2 separate regions of the Homo sapiens genome follow, and region 1 is linked to region 2. A link means that fine-mapping ties the variant in region 2 to the expression of a gene that starts in the linked region. Tissue or cell type: whole blood. Region 2 holds a variant in brackets; the other region holds the start of a gene. All regions are shown on one strand. Distances are between the middles of the regions. Region 1 holds the start of TAF5L (TATA-box binding protein associated factor 5 like). Region 2 has its middle 20 kb from the start of ABCB10.

Region 1 (5,377 bases), 48 kb before region 2:
TTAGAAATACAAAGACTGCTCAGAATGACCACAGAATGTATCAGACACACGAAGCAAAAAAGTAAGTTAAGAGTTGAAAGTCTGGGATTTGTGTCCTGGCTTCCCCCACATTACCTACAGCTTAACCTCTAATACTACTAATATTTATACATCATCTGGGAGACAGACACAGTTGATATGAAATCATACAAGTGCTTTATGAAAAGGAGGACTGTGCCTATCTATACAGGTTCCATTACGTGTCATGTTTCCTCTTCACAAAACATTGAAGAAAGCTCACAATCCCAGAACTGTCAATAACAGTATGAATAGTGACAGATGCCAGAAGGAATAAAATCTCTCAGTATAACAACAGCAGAAACCTTGATCCAATTGGCTGCTAGAGCCTCCCCTTTGTTTCACCCTGGGCAGCACCTGCCAGGTGATGGCCACGCTGCCAAGATGACTCCCAAGTGCAGCCAGGTGTAGAAAGCACTGGATATGACCGCTGCTCTCCACACCACACGTCATCATCGCTTTACATATGTCATCCATCTTGGAAGCATTTTGTGCTGTCTTCCTTGACAACAGCAACTGGATGTGTATTAATCCAATTTCATGAGCTTGTCATCCTGGTGTTTATCATGCCAACTAATTTTTAGCCTAAAAAGCCTGAGAAATTCTAACAAAATGCAATGCCTTTCTTGGTACCTAGCCCATTTCTAAAATGGCTTTATACAAATACTAACATTTCTCTACTTCCCAACCTTCAATTTATCCAATGCGGAAGACTTTTAACAAAGCACCACCAACCAACAGTTTAAGAAACATCACTTTGGATTTATAAGCAAATGCAGCTATCAATGGACTTTCAGAACCTAACTTCTGTAACTTAATTCCCAATGTGTTCATTAATGCATATACTTAGTTTGTAATATAATGTCTCCAAACAAAAGAAATGCTAAATTCGGTGGGTTCATTTATTTTAAAGAGACAAGGTCTTGCTCTATCGCCCAGGCTGGGAGTGAAAGTGGCACAATCATAGCTCATTGCAGCCTCAAACTCCTGGGCTCAAGGGATCCTCCCACCTCAGCCTCCCAAGTAGTAAGGACTACAGGCACATGCCACCATGTCTGACTAATTTATATACATATATAATATGTATATGTATAATATATATACATATATAATATGTATATGTATAATATATATACATATATATTATATATATTATATACATATATACTATACATATACTATATATATTATATATATATTATATATGTATATATACATATATATACATATATAATATATATAATTTTTTTAAGAGATGGGATCTCATTATGTTGTCCAGTCTGGTCTAGAACTCCTGGCCTCAAGCGATCCCCCGCTTTGGCCTCCCAAAATAGAGATGACAGGCATGAGCCACTGTCCCCGACCTAAATGAGGTTTTTTAACAGAAAAAAAAAATGTATTAATGAAGTACCTGACTCATTACTTTTTTCATTGACATTACATTTAACTTCCAACAAAGTTCCCTCCCCAACTTTTTCTCTATTTTTTTATTTTAACCAATTGTCAATATCCAAATTATAAAAGTGATAATTATCTTGACAGACTGTAAAAATATGAGTTTCACATTAAACTTACTTGTTCTTTATTTGGAAGAAAGCACTGGTGAGAAATCCAAGCAAAGTGAGCTAGTTTTAGTTTATCTTCCCAGGAAGTTGTCTTGCTTTTAAGCTTAAGGGAAATGCCAGAATAAACAGCAGCCATGGCTAGGCTTTATCTAAAATTTAAAAACAATGGGAAAAAAAATACTATAACAATGTCAGACTGAGCAGGCACCAGAAAACCAACAGTATTGCAGTACTGTATCTTGTTTACCTAATATGTATTCTTTTAAAAGTTTTTAATGAATCAACAGATTTGTCGGGGTAAATCTACATACAAGATGCTTGACTCCAGAATTTTCTGGGGGAAATTCAGACAAAAGCAAGCAAAAGATGGACTGCACACACAGAAGATGGACTATATGTATTCCAGCTATGATCAAACATCACTTCCACAAAGGTGAGTGTTCAGGAATTCAACAAGGCCAAAATCAGTGATTACATTACTTGTGGAAAGAGTCATTCATACATGGTTTCAAATTGAAAGAGGAAAAGATACATAAGCAATATCCGGAGAAAGTAATATGTCTCCAAGTGAAAAAGAAAACCCCAAAGGAATACAGTTATTTCAGCTGCAACAGTAACCTTCCACTAACACTTTTATTCAGTCGTGTATAAATTTACAACGCACATACACTTCAAAAAAGACTCTACAAGAGATACTTGCACAAGGAAAAGACTAAAAATAGAAAACAAAAAACCATGAAATCTCGGGGGTAGCAAACATACCAAACACCTACAGTTACTATTAAACTGGGTAAACTTGGCTTTGAGTTTCCTAAAAGTTATAGTAAAAAGGAACGTTAAGACGTTTTCATTTTAGAAATTAAGTTATCCTTCACTCTACTGCAGAGAACAAGAACGTCAAGTGCTGTCAGTTTTCCTATTTTGTCAAAATGTCCAAAACGAATTCAACGATGCCTGACTTTCTAAGTTCAATACCATAGAACCGCCATCGCGACAGCTACAAAGTGCATAACAGGTGTTTGCTGAACTGGCTACAAAGACAACCGAGATGCTCTCCCCGGCTCCGCCAGAGTTCGGCTCTCCGGGCCTCCAACCGCCCTTACCGGGCAATGCGAAGTCCAGGGCGGACAGCACAGCCCTGCCAGCACTCCCTGCCCAGCAGAAAGAGACCAAGCAACAAGAACCAGGGGAGAGCAGCTAGGAGCCAGGAGGGAGTTCGCCTTCGCGAATGGAGCGTGCCGAAGCCGCTCCAGCCCAGAGTCTGCTGGCGGCACCGGAACTGGGCAGGGTTGGGGGGCCCCCCATCTGGGCCCGGCCTTAGGTAGGGGGATCTCCTCTGGACCAGCCCCGGGTGGGGGGACTCACCTCGGGACCTGGCTGCCCGCAGGGGCTGACCGCAGGTGGGGGACTCACCTCGGGATCCGGCCCGGTAGGGGGCTCAGCTCGAGACAGCTCCGGGTAGACAGGGGAGGACGGCGGCAGCGGCGGCGGCTGCTGTCCCGGTGCGGCGGAGGCCGCTGTACGGGTCCCGCGTCCCCACCACGTGGGACCGGTACCCGCGCTCCTTCCGCCGGACGCCGGCGGCGCAGCGGGGAGGGGCTGCACGCACGCCAGGCGTCGCCAGCCGAGCGCCGAGGCGCCTCGCCCATTGGCGGAGACGGTTGCGCGTTGGAGGCCCGAGCGGCCCAGCCCGCGGCCCGCTCCGTGTCAGTCAGTCATGGAGCGGCCGCCCAGAGCGGCGGCGGGGGCGGCGGGGCGCGGGGCGCGGGGGCCCAGCTGAGCCGGCCGTCGGAGTGAGACCCTGCGGCAGAGACGACGGAGGCGGAAGCAACCCGATCCCGGAGGCGGCGGCGGCGGGGGGAGCCGGAGCCGCCTGGGATGTTCAGTGAGTGCCGGGAGCACGGGCGGGGAGGGCCGGGAGGGTCGCGAGGCGCGCGCGCGCGCGGGCGGGCGGGGGCCGGGGCGGTGGGGCCTCGGCGGGGCGCGCCTTGGCTCCCGCCGGCGGGCGGTGGGGGTGGGGCGCGGGAGGCGGGGCTGGGGGGCGGCGGGCGGCTCTGCGCGGGCGCGACGGCCGCGCCTCCGCCCTCGGCCTCCCGAGTCCCGGGCTGCGGCCGGCGGCGTGGCCTGCAGTCGGCGGCTACACCTGGACTGGCGTCGCGTTCCTGCGCAGGGGTGGGTCCTGCGGGTTGGATGCCGGGCTCGGGGAGGAGGTGGCGGGCGCCCGCGGGGAAGGTATCCCAGTGCCCGACAGCCAAGCAGGGAGCACGGCTCCACAGCTCCTTTGCATGTAGGGGAAAAGGAAATGTCTTTGCGGCGAAGTCGGGATTCAACTTTGCACATGGTGATCGTGCGTGGGTGGGTGTGGAGTCGATCTCCGCGTGTGACACGGGGGAGCCAGAGTTAGACTAGCTGCTGCAGGAGAGTGCTTACCTGCAAGGGTGTCTCTCGGGGCTCGTTGCCTCATGACAGCAAGGTAAGGTTGGTGCGCCCATGGTGTGGGACGGGTTCACCACCTCCAGCTCGCGAAGCTGCCAGGCTTTTGAAAATGTATTCGATAAGGCGTTGGTCCGAAGTGAGTGGATGGTTAGAAACAGTGGTGTCATTTTAGACTTAGCGGAAGTGGAGTGCAGGAACGCTACATGCAGTTCTCCCATCAGTTGTGAAAGTCGTTGTAATGCGGATCTCGCAGTCTTTGTGGTTCTGGGATCAGAAGGTAAGTGCCAGTCCCATGCAGTGTCTGTCTTAAATTACTGTACCTAAACTGACCTTGCAGATTGGAATCTCGGAATGGTGACTCCTGCTAACAAGCAGTTGGGAGCTGTGCTGAGAGGAACATTAAGTGCGGAGCGTGTCTTATATCAGGCGATTCAAGTGTGCCAACACCTGAGTTGGGGATGTAGGGGAGGACACGGAGGCTGTGCCCCAGTTCCTGGTCACAGCTCTACTTGGAAGGGGGAGTAGGAAAGGGAGTTTTGTGCTTAATAGGTTAAATGCATCTGGCCACATCTTTAAACTTTGGAACAGCATAATGTAGTGGATAGAGCTTGGTGACAGTAGACCTAGGATGGAAACCATGTAGCCATCTGCATAACCTCTCTGAACTGTAGTTTCCTCATCTATAAAATGCGATGATAAGGAATAACTTAAACGTGGATTTTTTTTTATCTTTAAGAGACAGGGTGCCTCTATGTTGCCCAGGCCTGGGCTCAAGCAGTCCTCCCGCCTCAGCCTCCCAAAAAACGACCTTTTTAAAGGTACCCAGAAAAAGAATGATGTGTATGAAAATAGCTAAATGTTAGCTATTATCGTTTCCTTTTTGGCAAAATACCTTCTAGGTTCCCTGTAGTCCTAAGTTTTTGCGTTAAATGGAATATATGCTAATTTTTTAATGAATCGTAAATTCTTCCTGCCTTAAAAATCAGCGCTAAGCTAGAAAATTAAAAGGTGGGCTTGTTTTGAGTATTTTTCTTTGTCATCAACAACAAATTAAATTAGTGTATCTTGGAATAGTTTTGTTGCTCCTGCCTGTAAATGTGAGGCTTATGTGAGCTTCTGTCACTGTGAAACTAGGTAAAGGCCTCACTTAACTACTCAGTAACTGGTTTTTGGTTTTGCAAGCAATATATTAGCACCTGTGAAGGACATCTCTGGGGAAAGAAAGGGGGTTTTGTTTCTGCTAATTTGTTTTGCTGGAAGGGAGCTCTAGGGGTCATCTGTTAAACCAGTATTACTCAGTGGACAGTACTAGAAGTCAC
Region 2 (5,377 bases):
TCAGGCTGGTCCTGAACTCCTGACCTCAGGTAATCCGCCCGCCTCAGCCTCCCAAAGTGCTGGGATTATAGGCGTGAGCCACTGTGCCTGGCCGAGTTGTACATTTTAAGAAGAGGAATTGTATGGTATGTGAATTCAATAAAGTCGTTACCCCCCAAAATTGAAAAAGTAAGATGCAACGGCCTATAATTGGCAGTAATTCAATAATGCTTATTGAATGATTGAGTAAATGAATGTGTGGCAAAAGATAGCTATTCATTCATGAAACAAAACTGCAGTCTGGGTTCCTTTTGACTTTGAGGAGACTTCAGCTCAACTGTCTGTAGGACTTTTAAGGATGAATTTATTGGAAGAGGGTCGCAAATATTAACTCAATGCACCAACTTTTGTGTTTTGAATTATTCTTGTTTCTTTTGATGTTTTTTAAAATGAGACTTATGCTCATAAAAGTGTATCCAAAATTTTTTTGAAAGGCAATTTTTAATGCCTACCTACTCCATGCCATAAAATGCTCTTTCTTGATTAAGCCAATATTACTGGATTTATCAATATTTCAAAGTTTGTGACTTTCTATAAAACAAAGTTCAAATCTGAATTAACTCACAGGTTGTTCCGATGGCTCATAAATTTATGTTGGTAAAATACTTTTGCCTCCCAGAATAAAACCAGGCCAGGTGCGGTGGCTGATGCCTGTAATCCCAGAACTTTGGGAGGATTGCTTGAGGCCGTGAGTTCGAGACCAGCCTGGGCAAAATAATGAAACCCTGTCTCTACAAAAAAAAAAAAAGAAAAAAAAAATTAAAAAATAGCCAGACATGGTGGCATGTGCCTATAGTCCCAGCTACTCAGGAGTTAGAAGTGGGAGTAGCATTTGAGCCCAGAAGTTCAAGGCTGCAGTGAGCCATGATTGTGCCACTGCACTCCAGCTTGTGCAACAGAGTGAGACCCTGTCTCTAAAAATAAAATTTAGATTTAAAAAAAGAAGAATAGGCCGGGCGTGGTGGCTCATGCCCGTAAACCCAGCACTTTGGGAGGCTGACTCAGGTGGATCGCCTGAGGTCAGGAGTTCGAGACCAGCCCAGCCATCATGGTGAAACCCTGTCTCTACTAAAAATACAAAAATTAGCTGGGCATGGTGGCAGGCGCCTATGATCTCAGCTACTCAGGAGGCTAAGGCAGGAGAATCATCACTTGAACCTGGGAGGCAGAGGTTGCAGTGAGCCGAGATCACGCCATTGCTCTCCAGCCCAGGCGACAAGAGTGCAACTCCAACTGAAAAAATAATAATAAATAAAACCATAGGTAAGTATAATGAGGGACAAGATACTGTAATTTCTGCTCAAGCTAAGAAGAAAAAGGTAAAGCAATTTGGGGAGATATCAAGCTATAAGTAAATGCCCAGAAACATAGTGTGCTGTACATGTAGTAATCTACTTCATGATCATTACCTTTGTTAAGGGCTCATTATATAAAGGCATAACAGAGAAATCAAAAACAAACAAACAAACCCCATCTCCCAAAAGACAGAAAACTGTCTCCTTAATTAGAAGCATTTCTCTTTAATTATAAACTTTTTTGAATCCTCAAAAAAAAAGTTCATGGATTTTGGTACTATTGAGAACCTGTCACAACCAAAGTTCAGCTCACTCTTCAGAGAGCCCTCTTTATTTCTTATCTTCCTCTCTTTCTCAGCCATTTCCCACATTGTTTTCAAGCTGTATGTCTTTTCTTTCCTGGCTGAGTTCCCAAGTCGTGATCATCGCTTAGTGTCTGACTTGAGACTCTGTTAGGGGTGGGGTCCTGCTGCCTGAAGCACAAAGCATGGCAGGGTCGGGTTCTGGCGTGTGGTTCCCAGCAAGGGCGCTGAAGACAGGCAGCTCTTCCCTGGCATTCTGCCCTAGCACAGAGTGCGCCATAGATCCCATGAATGGCTGTCCTGTGAACAATGAGAGGACAGAAGGGAGCTGTGCAGGCTTCCTTCCAGCTGCAGACGCCAAAGCATACAGAGGGCCTGCTGACTGCAGCTGGGGAGTCCTGAAATGGCCTTGCATTTATGTGAAGTGCTCATCCAAGCTGCGATCCATAACAGGGCCATTATAAGGACACCTGAGATTCTCTCATTTACTGCAGCACAGCCTCTTGCCAGTGTCTCTCATCCCGCTCTGCTGAGCTCTGAGCAATATTTAAATGAATTGGAGGCAGGCCAGGAGTTATTTTCCCTT[C/T]CCCTTTTCTCTATTTTCTGACTTCTTCTCTCAGGGCTTTCTGTTCTCATGACACAGTTTTTACAGCCAAAGGTCAGTACATTTCTTTTCAAAAGTCCCGTAGATCCGCCTTGCTCCTGGCATCCTTTCACCTTCTTATGAATGATGAAGGTGAAATAGAAAAGGTGAACCTTTGGAGAAGGAGGAAACACAATTTCTCCCCTGCGCTGCCAGACACTTCCTTTCATTTCTTTGCTGCCACACCGTGGCAGCAGATTTGCCCTTAGATTACAATCAATGTGAAGCTAAAACAAAGCTATAGTCAAATGCTAATAGATTCTTGGGCTCTGGGACATTTTCAGAGGGAGGGTGGGAGTAGACACAAGAAGAAATCAGGGTCTGGGCATGGTGGCTCACGCCTGTAATCCTAGGAATTTGGGAGGCCGAGGCGGGCGGATCACCTGAGGTCAGGGGTTCGAGACCAGCCTGGGCAACATGGCGAAACCCCACCTCCACTAAAAAAGTACAAAAATTAGCCAGGCATGGTGGTGCATGCCTGTAATCCCAGCTACTTGGGAGGCTGAGACAGAAGAATCGCTTGAAAACCCAGGAGGCGAAGGTTGCAGTGAGCTGAGATTATGCCACTGCACTCCAGCCTGGGTAACAGAGTGAGACTGAAGAAAGAGAAAGAAAGAAAAAGAAAAAGAGAAAGAAAGAAAAAAAGAAAGAAAGAAAGAAAGAAAGAAAGAGAGAAAGAGAAAAAGAGGGAGGGAGGGAAGGAAGGAAGCGAAGGAAGGACGGAAGGAAAAGAAAGAGGAAGGAAGGAAGGGAGGAAGGGAGGAAGGAAAGAGAAAGAAAAAGAAAAAAAGAAAGAAAGAGAAAGAAAGAAAAAAGAAAGAAAAGAGAAGAAAGGAAGGAAGGAGAAAAAGAAATCAGGGAATAATAAAAACTACCACTTGTAAAAATATATATTGTGTGCCAGGCATTGTGCTAGATACCAGAGATTCATTGATCAGTTAGGTAGAGGTGGTGTTCACCTGATAACTCCATTTTTCAGTGAATAGATGCCTTGCTCATAGTGGGGACTCAACATCATTGAATGGAAATGTTTGCTAGTAGGTTGAACATCAGCAATGTTTGCTCTAGATTCTCCTGCTTGTGTGTGCAATAGTTTAAGAAATTCCTTTGGACAGTAATACCATGGATCTAGCCTCTTAATGAAGAATACCCAAAGTACTCCTGGCAGAGAAACTGGCAATCACTTTGGGTGGTGGAGCATAGCCTCCTACCTCTAGATTCAGTGTTCTGCAAATTCAAAGAGGAGAGTGTTTTTTTGTTTGTTTTGTTTTGTTTGAGATGGAGTCTCTGTTGCCCAGGCTGGGGTTCAGTGGTGCGATCTCGGCTCACTGCAACCTCTGCCTCTCCCGAGTTCAAGCGATTCTCCTGCCTCAGCCTCCCTAGTAGCTGGAATTACAGGCACCCACCACTACGCCCGGCTAATTTTTGTATTTTTAGTAGAGACGGGGTTTCACCATGTTGGCCAGGTTGGTCTCAAGCTGCTGACCTCAGGTCATCCGCCCACCTCAGCCTCCCAGAGTGCTGGGATTATAGGCGTGAGCCGCCGCACCCGGCAAGAGGAGAGTGTTTAAGTGCAGTTCAGAAACTATGAGCGAATATAAAATGCTGTTACACTTAGCACTACTTCAACTAAGCCCTCTAATTGCTCCTAGATGGCACCCACTTCAGGAAGAAGTTATGAGGCCTATTTGATGGAGAGTGAATATCACACATCCAGATTTGTTCAATTGGTACCTCCATTTTTCAGTTAACAGAGAGGCTGACCTTGCACATGATAGCTACTCAGACATCTGTTAAATTGAAATGTTTGCTAAGCCTGCCTGATAAATTGTTTTGATTTGGGTTTTGCTATTTCTTGATAAATATGCCCAACAGTTTAACAAATCCCCATTAACATTAATGCCCTGGATCTAGACTAATAAGAATAAACAAATTTCCTCTCTCTCTTAAACTGAATTTCTTTAAAACGTTGCTCAAAATCAAGTTTTATGGCAAATTTCATCACTTAGTCTGAAACTTAAATCTTATTTTTGTCATGTTTTATGTGATCTGATCAGATGATATGGCCCCAAACAAAGCCATAACATCAGCTTGGCCAACTATTTTCCTTAATCACTCTTGTAGCGCTTTAAGACCACATTGTTGGCCGGGCACGGTGGCTCACACCCATAATCCCAGTACTTTGGGAGGCCGAGGCAGGCAGATCACCTGAGGTCAGGAGTTCAAGACCAGCCTGACCAACATGGAGAAACCTCGTCTCTACTAAAAACACAAAATTAGCCGGGCGTGGTGGCGCTTGCCTATAATCCCAGCTACTCGGGAGGCTGAGACAGAAGAATCACTTGAACCCAGGAGGCGGAGGTTGTGGTGAGCCGAGATCGTGCTATTGCACTCCAGCCTGGGCAACAAGAGCGAAACTCCATCTCAAAAAAAAAAGGAAGAAAAAAGAAAAACACACATCTTATAGTGGAGATATTTGCCATGTTTTTCTGCCTTTTTGTGAGCCTGACATAATCAGTGAGGAAGTAGCCAACCTTTCCAGGTATTTGAATGTTCTAGGGCCTCAAGGAATCCATTTATTAAATTGTAAACCCCCTAACTCAAGCTACAGCTCCCAAAAAGGCAGGAGGGTGGGTGGGAAGAGCAAGGTCCTCACTGCAGAGCAGCTTGGGGCAGCACTGTGACTGACAGCACATGTCTGGAGTCAGACCCATCTACATCCCAGGGCCATGAACTACTTGAGCAAACCATGTATGATTTCTGTGCCTCTGTTTCCTCATCTGTAAAATGCAGATTATCAGGCTGATGATATGATAAAAATTATATTAGTGCCAGGCTCAGTGGCTCACACCTATAATACCAGCACTTTGGGAGGCCAAGGTGGGAGGATCACTTGAGGCCAGGAGTTCAAGACCAGCCTGGGCAACATAGCAAGATCTTGTCTCTTAAAAAAAAAAATGACAGGGTCATGCCTGGATGATGGAGGTCACGCCTGGGTCATAATAGGATGTGGTAGTGCACACCTGTAGTCCCAGCTACCTAGGAGTCTGAGGCAGAAGATTGCTTGAACCCAGGAGCTCAAGGCTACAGTGAGCTAT

The links.
Region 1: it holds the start of TAF5L, and the variant in region 2 is fine-mapped to the expression of TAF5L in whole blood (INTERVAL, PIP above 0.99).

The regions. Positions count from the first base shown.
Region 1 is chr1:229,624,015-229,629,391 of GRCh38, reverse strand. It overlaps TAF5L (TATA-box binding protein associated factor 5 like), which reads left to right and starts at 3,270. Exons shown (of 5, transcript NM_014409.4): 1 at 3,270-3,507. It overlaps URB2 (URB2 ribosome biogenesis homolog), which reads right to left and starts at 3,145. Exons shown (of 10, transcript NM_014777.4): 1 at 3,036-3,145; 2 at 1,633-1,771. The coding sequence starts at 1,758. RefSeq lists enhancers at 2,572-2,651, 4,312-4,361, 5,206-5,377 and silencers at 2,842-3,541, 3,632-3,821.
Region 2 is chr1:229,575,991-229,581,367 of GRCh38, reverse strand. No RefSeq gene overlaps it. Among named protein-coding and RNA genes, the nearest start is that of ABCB10, 20 kb to the right of the region's middle. The variant C/T (reference allele first, on the strand shown) is at 2,223.